Homo sapiens: one gene and its partner. The protein of the gene in region 2 interacts with the protein of the main gene of each other region in a pairwise test. Each region holds a gene or a part of one and is shown on either strand. Other genes may lie near its edges.

The links. Proteins that work in one complex are often made in the same cells at the same time.
Region 1: the proteins of KCTD7 (region 2) and NIF3L1 interact in binary tests that used the Homo sapiens proteins (3 or more experiments, as listed by UniProt).

What each region holds. Positions count from the first base shown.
Region 1 is NC_000002.12:200,887,341-200,890,940, reverse strand, and holds the start of NIF3L1 (NIF3-like protein 1), read right to left. Parts: upstream 1,571-3,600; 5' UTR 1,289-1,570; exon of another isoform or gene 1-1,288. Other genes in the region: PPIL3 (peptidyl-prolyl cis-trans isomerase-like 3), read left to right, coding at 3,326-3,328. UniProt on the Homo sapiens protein: May function as a transcriptional corepressor through its interaction with COPS2, negatively regulating the expression of genes involved in neuronal differentiation.
Region 2 is NC_000007.14:66,627,133-66,631,077, reverse strand, and holds the start of KCTD7 (BTB/POZ domain-containing protein KCTD7), read right to left. Parts: upstream 2,198-3,945; 5' UTR 2,014-2,197; coding exon 1,870-2,013; intron 1-1,869. UniProt on the Homo sapiens protein: May be involved in the control of excitability of cortical neurons.

The sequences.
Region 1 (3,600 bases), on a different chromosome or scaffold from region 2:
TCAAGTGCTTTATCAGAATCAAAAATCAAGGAATACATAGGCAGGTCACTCTATAAATGGGCAGGGTCAAGGCAGAAGAAGGGAGAAGCCACTGCCCCTTAAGCAACATTTGCTACACAAAGGCCAGGCTCAAGAGGTGGGAGGGGATAAGGTATAGGGTACTTTTCCCAGACAGCCTGTAAGCCTTCTAAGTATCTACATCCAACAAGGAACTGAAAAGGTTGGCAACAGAGGGAAGGTGGGAGGGCAATGGAAAGGTAGAAAAAAACTGCTGGCTCCAAAATATGCACAATTAGTAAATGTTTAATCAAATAACCACAAAAGATAATGCTGTCAACCCCATTCTTAAACTTACCACTTATAAACACTTTTTGAAGAAAAACATTTCATAGTATGCACAATAAGAAAGCATAGCCAACTGTAAATTTGATGAAATATCCATAAGTCAATTATTCCAAAAGCAATTTTTCAACATTTCTATTTAATGAGATGAAGATGCTTGTTTAACACATTATTTGAAGTGATACAGGGTCTCCAAAAACCACTCGAGGTCTTGGAAGTTTGTTTTTGTTTTTTTCTTTTTGACACAGGGTTTCACTAGGCGCCTAGGCTGGAGTGCAGTGGCGTGATCTCAGCTCACTGCAGCCTCGACTTCCTGAGCTCAAGCAGATCCTCCCACCTCAGCCTCCTGAGCAGCTGGGACTACAGGCGCTAAACACCACACCTGGCTAATTTTTGTATTTTTAGTAGAGATGGGGATTCGCCATGTTGCCCAGGCTGGTCTCAAACTCCTGCGCTCAAGTGATCCACCTGCCTCGGCCTCCAAGAGTACCGGGATTACAGGGGTGAGCCACTGCGTCCGGCCTTGAAAGATCTTCTAATGGTCCTCATAGTACTCCATTCTCCAGCATTTTCTACATCTGGCAAGCTCGAAAGTGAAACCCTAGTGGGCCATCATGCAGGTTTTGAGTTATTTACTGTTACAGATGAGGAAACTGCGAAGCTACATGGCCACAGTCAACAACGACAACAGAAGGCAACATAGTATGGCGGTTAAGAGCACCGACTCTGAAGCCAGCCTGAATCCTAGAGCCAGAGCTGTGCAACAGCAGGTAAATGACTTATCCTGTGCAGTTTCCTCCTTAATGGAAATAGTGCCCAGGCCACAATATCGCGAGATTTACACGTAAAGCTGGAAACAACTCCCGTCCTAGAGTAAGCACTGTTTACTATTAAGCAGCATCAGTAGGGCCCCTTTGCAACCTGCAAACCGCTCCCTCGACGTTACCTCATCTATGCCTCATTTCAGTGCCACTTCAGGCCTTTTCCAGGACAGTGAAAAACCACGAGACACAGCCAGTTAAGTCTGAGTCAGGACCCCTGTCCCACTAGTGCGCTGTGCTCTGGTGCGGCAGGGCAGTTTTCTGACCCAATCTCCTCTTCTGCTGTCCTCTGCAGCACCAAGATAACAATCACAGCCGGCCCCAACCGGCACCTACCGCGAAGGTCACAACTACACTCGCGGGTTTTTAAATCGCCCACTACTCACCAGTCCCGGAAACTTCTCTGCGTCACTTCCGGTCCCGCGTCGGCGCTCCGGATGCTGTGGCACTTGGCTCCCCGTAGCGGGAGAGCTGGGCGGAAGTGGTCCTTTCCGTTTGGCAGCCGAGTGTAAAGCATTGCTTGAGGTTGCCCAGGTAGTTTCGCCTTACACTTCTTGTCCCAGTGCAATTATTAGTAGAGCTCCCTTTCACTGTCAAATTTCCGGTTGGGGATAAATTGCATTGTCGTTTTGGTTTGAGATAGGAAGATGAGGGGAGGAAGGAGGTGAGGCGGTAAGGGGCGTTCTCTCTCTTGGGTCCCGCGCCCAACTTCCGCTGGCCCAAAGAAACTATAATTTTGAACCAACAGACCTCTGCTGGCATCTGCGATTGCATTTTTCCTGTTTTAACAACGGCTGTGCTAGACGAAGTGGTGAAGCCCAAGTATGGAGTAACGTCATTAATTCTTTCATTCACTTATTCGAATGCTTGCTGAGTTCTGTGTTGCTACTGGTTTAGTTCTTGGGATACTGCGAGTGAACAGTGGGCGGCGAGGCTGTTGTTGCAACGTCAGAGTAAAAGAAGGACCCTGCACGGCGGCCTCCCAGCACTTCGGGAGGCCGAGGCGGGCGGATCACCTGAAGTCAGGAGTTCGAGACCAGCCTGGCCAACACGGCGAAACCCCGTCTCTACTAAAAATACAAAAATTAGTCGTGCATGGTAGCGCGCGCCTGTAGTCCCACCTACTCGGGAGGCTGAGACACGACAATCACTTGAACCCGGGAGGCGGAGGCGGAGGTTGCAGTGAGCCGAGATCCTGCCGCACTGCACTCCAGCCTGGCGACATAGCGAGACTCCGTCTCAAAATGAAAAAAAAAGAGAAGTTCATAGTATATTAGTGATAAGTGCTGTGGTGGAAAAAAAAAAGTTCATAGTATATTAGTATAAGTGCTGTGGTGAAAAAAAAAAAAAGCGAATTTCATAGTATATTAGTGATAAGTGCTGTGGGAGAAGGAAATAGGAATGTCCTAGGGCTGAAGGGCTAAAGCAGTTCTGTGTAGGATTGTCAGGTCAGTTAAACTTGACATTTAAGCAGAAATTTGGAGGTGAGGAAATTAGCCGTAGAGATGTCTGAGTATAAGAATTCCAGGCAAAAGGGACACCCAATGCCTGGACCCTAAGGGAAGGTATCTGGGTTATTGGGGGACTTGCAAGGAGGCTCTTGAAGAAGAGCAAGCCGGGCAAGTAGGAGATTGGGAGGCTTGAATCGGGTAGGATATCTTCTATAGCCGGGTTTTTATTACCTAGGGGATGCCATTAGAGGATTTTTTTTTTTTTTTTTTTTGACGGAGTCTCGCGCTGTCACCCAGGCTGGAGTGCAGTGGCGCGATCTCAGCTCACTGCAGCCTCCGCCTCCTGGGTTCAAGTGATTCTCCTGCCGCAGCCTGCTGAGTAGCTAGGACTACAGGCGCCTGCCACCACACCCGGCTAATTTTTGTGTTTTTAGTAGAGACGGGGTTTCGCCATGTTGGCCAGGCTGGTCTCGAACTCCTGACCTCAAGTGATCCACCCGCCTCGGCCTCCCAAAGTGTTAGGATTATAGGCGTGAGCCACCACGCCCGGCGAGGTTTTTATTTAAAATGTTCAGTAAAGATGAGCGTGTGTGAGTTAAGACAGGAAAATGAGCCTAATTCTTTTTTTCTTTTGGGACTAGAGACTTATTTTTGAGCTCGCTGTAAGACTGAGAAATCACGTAGTCCTTCCTGAAACCACTAAGAGGAAAAATGGTAAGTTTTGAGCAATTTTTATCTAATGTCTTTCATTATAAGTAATTTTTAGAAATTCAGTCAAGGGCAATAAAAGTTCATGGAAATTGCAGTGGCAAGATGGAGAAATTGTATAATATAGAAGCACTTAATATGGAATAATTCTTTTAAAAAATACACAAAATTGCTTTAAAATTCTTTAATGTTGTCACTTAAAATGCACAGAATTTACCTTTTTTTTTTTTTTTTTTTTTGAGTTTCACTCTTGTCTCCCAGGCTGGAGTGCAGTGGTG
Region 2 (3,945 bases):
TACTCTTCTGCACCCACAGGACATGAAAATGCCTTGCGCTTATTCTGTAGGTCCTCTAAAACCATTTTATGTGTATATCAAGGGCTCAGATATCATTTTGGAATAATAATACTTAACATTTCTGGAGCTCTTTAAACCTTTTCTAAAGATACTTCATACCAATCCAAGTGCTTGCTCCATATTAGAGATGAGAGGATTGAAGCAGAGAGGACAAAAGCCATCGGAAACAGTTTTGGAGCTCACATGGGGCAATGTCATCAGTGGGGGGAACTGGTGGTGGGGCCCTGGTCTGCAATCTGTGGTCTTGTGCTCTTTCCCTCAAACCATATCATTTTCCCAATGACAGTGCACAAAAAAATAGCACCACTGTGACTAATGACTTTTTTCCAATTGCAGAGATTACTTCTAGATTTTTGCTCATTTTCCCATGGCATTGTGTGTATGGGGCTTGCAATCCCAGCACAACACTATCTGCTTCCCAAGAGCATCACCTAGCCCAGCCTGTTGAGGGCCTCAATTGTTGAGGGCCTCCATTGTCCTGGGACTCCGCATACCACATGCTCCTGGATCTGGCACTACCTTAGTCCCTGCCTCCTAGAAGCCATCTTCGGTGTCCAGTAATGCTTCACCTTCCCTCCTCTTTATTTTTTATTTGTAGAGATGGAGTCTGTGTTGCCCAAGCTGGTCCCAGACTCCTGGCCTCAAACCATCCTCCTGCCTTGACCTCCCAAAGTGCTGGGATTACAAGTGTAAGCCACCACACCTGGCATCGTTTCCCTTCTCTTGCTTTTTTTGTTTTTGTTTGTTTGTAGGTACGGTCTTACTCTATCACACCCAGGCTGGAGTACAGTGGCACAATTACAGCTCACTGCAGCCTCAACCTCCAGGGCTCAAGCAATCCTCCCAACTCACCTTCCTGAGCACCTGGGACTACAGGCACACACCACCAAGCCTGGCTAATTTTCATTTTTGTAGAGGCAGGGTCTCACTGTTGCCCTGACTAGTCTCTAACTGCTGGGATCAAGCAATCCTCCCACCTCAGCATCCCAAACTGCTGAGATTACAGATGTGAGCCACCATGCCTGGTATCTTCTCCCGTCTCTTGAGTGTCATTTCAGGTGTTGACATGATAGTATCACACACATTAAGTAAGACCCGTGGAAGCCCCTGTGCACCAGAGCACAGCAGCCTGTGAGTGAAAGCCATGGGATGCCAGGTGACCGTGCCTACATCTATGAACTGGCCTGCCCCTTATGTGCAGACAGCTCCTTGCCTTGTTCCTTAGGTAGCTGGAGACTAGGTGTGGGCAACCACTACAGCATCCTGTTGGATTCTCTAGAAGACATCTTTTTCTTTTCTTTTTTTTATTCATCCAACCCAAAATGCCTTTGTTTTTCCAGTCGTAGTAGGGACGGGGCCTCGCTATGTTGCCCAGGCTGGCCTCCAACTCCTGCCCTCAAGCGATCCTCCCTCCCAATGTGTTGGGATTACAGGCTCGAGCTACGGTGCCTGGTCAGACACACCATCAGCTCTCGGGGCTCCAGGGTCCCCCTCCCACGGCCCACCCTCCCTCCTGTCTTCGGTAAAAGTGGGACATGGCGATGGGAGTAAATCACCCCAGTGACTACTGGGCGGAGGGTGTAGGGGGTGGGGAAGCACACCTAGTGGGTGTAATTGACAGGGGTTGAAGGTGGGTGGGTAGGGGTGCAGGTGGGCGGGGGAGTTGCAGGTGGGCGGGGGAGGGGCGCAAGTCCGCGGGCCCCGCCCCCAACCCCGGCCCCGCCCACCCGCCGAGGACCGCTATGCCCCGCGCCCGCTTCTCCCCCGCGCCCCTCCCCACGCCCCGCGGCCCGCCGCCCGCCCGGGTACCTCCTGTGGCAGCAGGGGCAGCGCGTGCCCCGCCTGCGTGGCCGTCGGCGTGGCCGGCTCCAGAAAGTCGTCTTCGGCGTCAGAGCTGGACATGGCACCGTCCTGACGACGGCTGTCTGGCTCCCGCCCCGTGACTACCACCATCCCTCTGGCTCTGGGCAGTGGGCGCGGCTTCGGGCGGGCGGAGGCGGCGGCCCCGGGCACTCCCTACCGCCGAGCAGCGCCTGGCATGACGCGGCCGGCTGCGGGCTGGCCGGAGGGGGGCGAGAGGCAGTGCGCAGGCGGGAGGGCGGTGGCTCCCTCAACGCCGACCCGCTCGCGCCCAGCTGGGGCCTGACCCGACCGCCTCCCGCTACTGGCCGACGCCGCGCTGGTTCCGCCCTGATTGGCAGGAAGCTCGCCCAGTCGAAGAGCAGGCAGCGCCAGCGGCCGGCGCCTGAGTGGTCCCTGGGTTGGGGGGGGGGGGGGGGGGCGGCCTGCGAGCCTGCCGTGCACTGATTGGTCCTCTGGCCAGCGGGCGCGCCCTCTCCGAGAGACCCGGCGGTGGTGCGCCGCTACGCTCTCATAACTGGGCGTCGGAGTCTGCCGTGAAGAGGGTTCTCACCCGCGTCAGGGTAGACGCCTTATCCCTTCACACAGGGGGTCACGACTTACTCGTGTGTCTGGCCCCAGAGCAGCGGGTCCTTGTCTCCTCAATGGAAGGCCTGAGCAGCCTTTCCTGGAGGATGTGGCGGGAGGAGGGCTGAGGTGGCTGCGGACACGCCACCGCGGCTGGCCCCGCCCCGAGCCGCAGGGCACCGCCCGGGTGTCCAGTTCTTCCTCACTCGCTCGCGCAGAAATCCGAACGAGAAAACCCAAAATAGGAGCGCTTGAGTTCAATGAATAATGACAGTGACTCCCCACCGTGACCGTTTTTCCACCGGGACACACAGATGGAGACAGGCCCTTCCCCAAGATGCTCCCGGCTCCCTGGGAGGCGGAGTCCAGCCCTAGAGGCTCTATCAGCGCAGGGAGTCTCCTGGGGGTCAAGGTTCTTAGCCCGTTCAAGCCATTTTCTCCTTTCTTTAAAAGACAAAGTCTCACTCTGTTACCCAGGCTGAAGTGCAGTGGCGCAATCATAGCTCATTGCAACCCCTGGGCTCAAGCAATCCTCCCGCCCCAGCCTCCCGAGTAGCTGGGACCACAGACGCGCACCACCACACTCAGCTGATTTTTTAAAATTTTGGCCGGGCGCAGTGGCTCACGCCTGTAATCCTGGCTCTTTGGTAAGCGATGCGGGTGGATCACCTGAGGTCAGGAAGTTGAGACCAGCCTGGCCAACATGGTGAAACCTCATCTCTACTAAAAATACAAAATTAGCCAGGCATGGTGGCACACCTGCAATCCCAGCTACTAGGGAGGCTGAGGCAGGAGAATCGCTTGAACCCAGGAGATGGAGATTGCAGTGAGGCGAGATCACGGCCACTATACTCCAACCTGGGCAACAAGAGCGAAACTCCGTCTCAAAAAAGAAAAAAAAATTTTTTTTTTTTTTTTTTTTTAAGAAATGGGGTCTTGTCATGTTGCCCAGGCTGGTCTCAAACTCCTTGCCTCAAGCTGTCCTCCCTCGTCAGCCTCCCAAAGTGCTGGGATCGCAGGCGTGTGCAACCATGCTTCTCCTTTTCAAACCGTTTTCACACCCAGTTCCTCATCTCATTCTCACAGTGTAGTGACAGAAAAGAAAACTGAGTCGTAGATTAGACAGCTCCAGGATGGCAAAGATGAGCTGGTGGCATAGCACTTCCTCTGTTAGACCATCGCACTCCCAGCTGCAGGAGTGTCCTAGGTCTGTGTTTTCTCCAACTTCAGTTGCATCAAAATCCCTGGAGGGAGACCTTGTTTAAACACAGATGAAAAGGAATGAAATCACGTCATCTGCAGCAACGTGGATGGACGTCATTATGTTAAGTGAAATAAGCCAGGCACAGAAAGACATAAATATTGCATGTTCTTATCTGTGGCAGCTAAAACAAATCGATCTCATAAATTTAGAGAGTAGAAAGAAACCAGAGGCTGGGAACGGTTGGGTGAGAAATG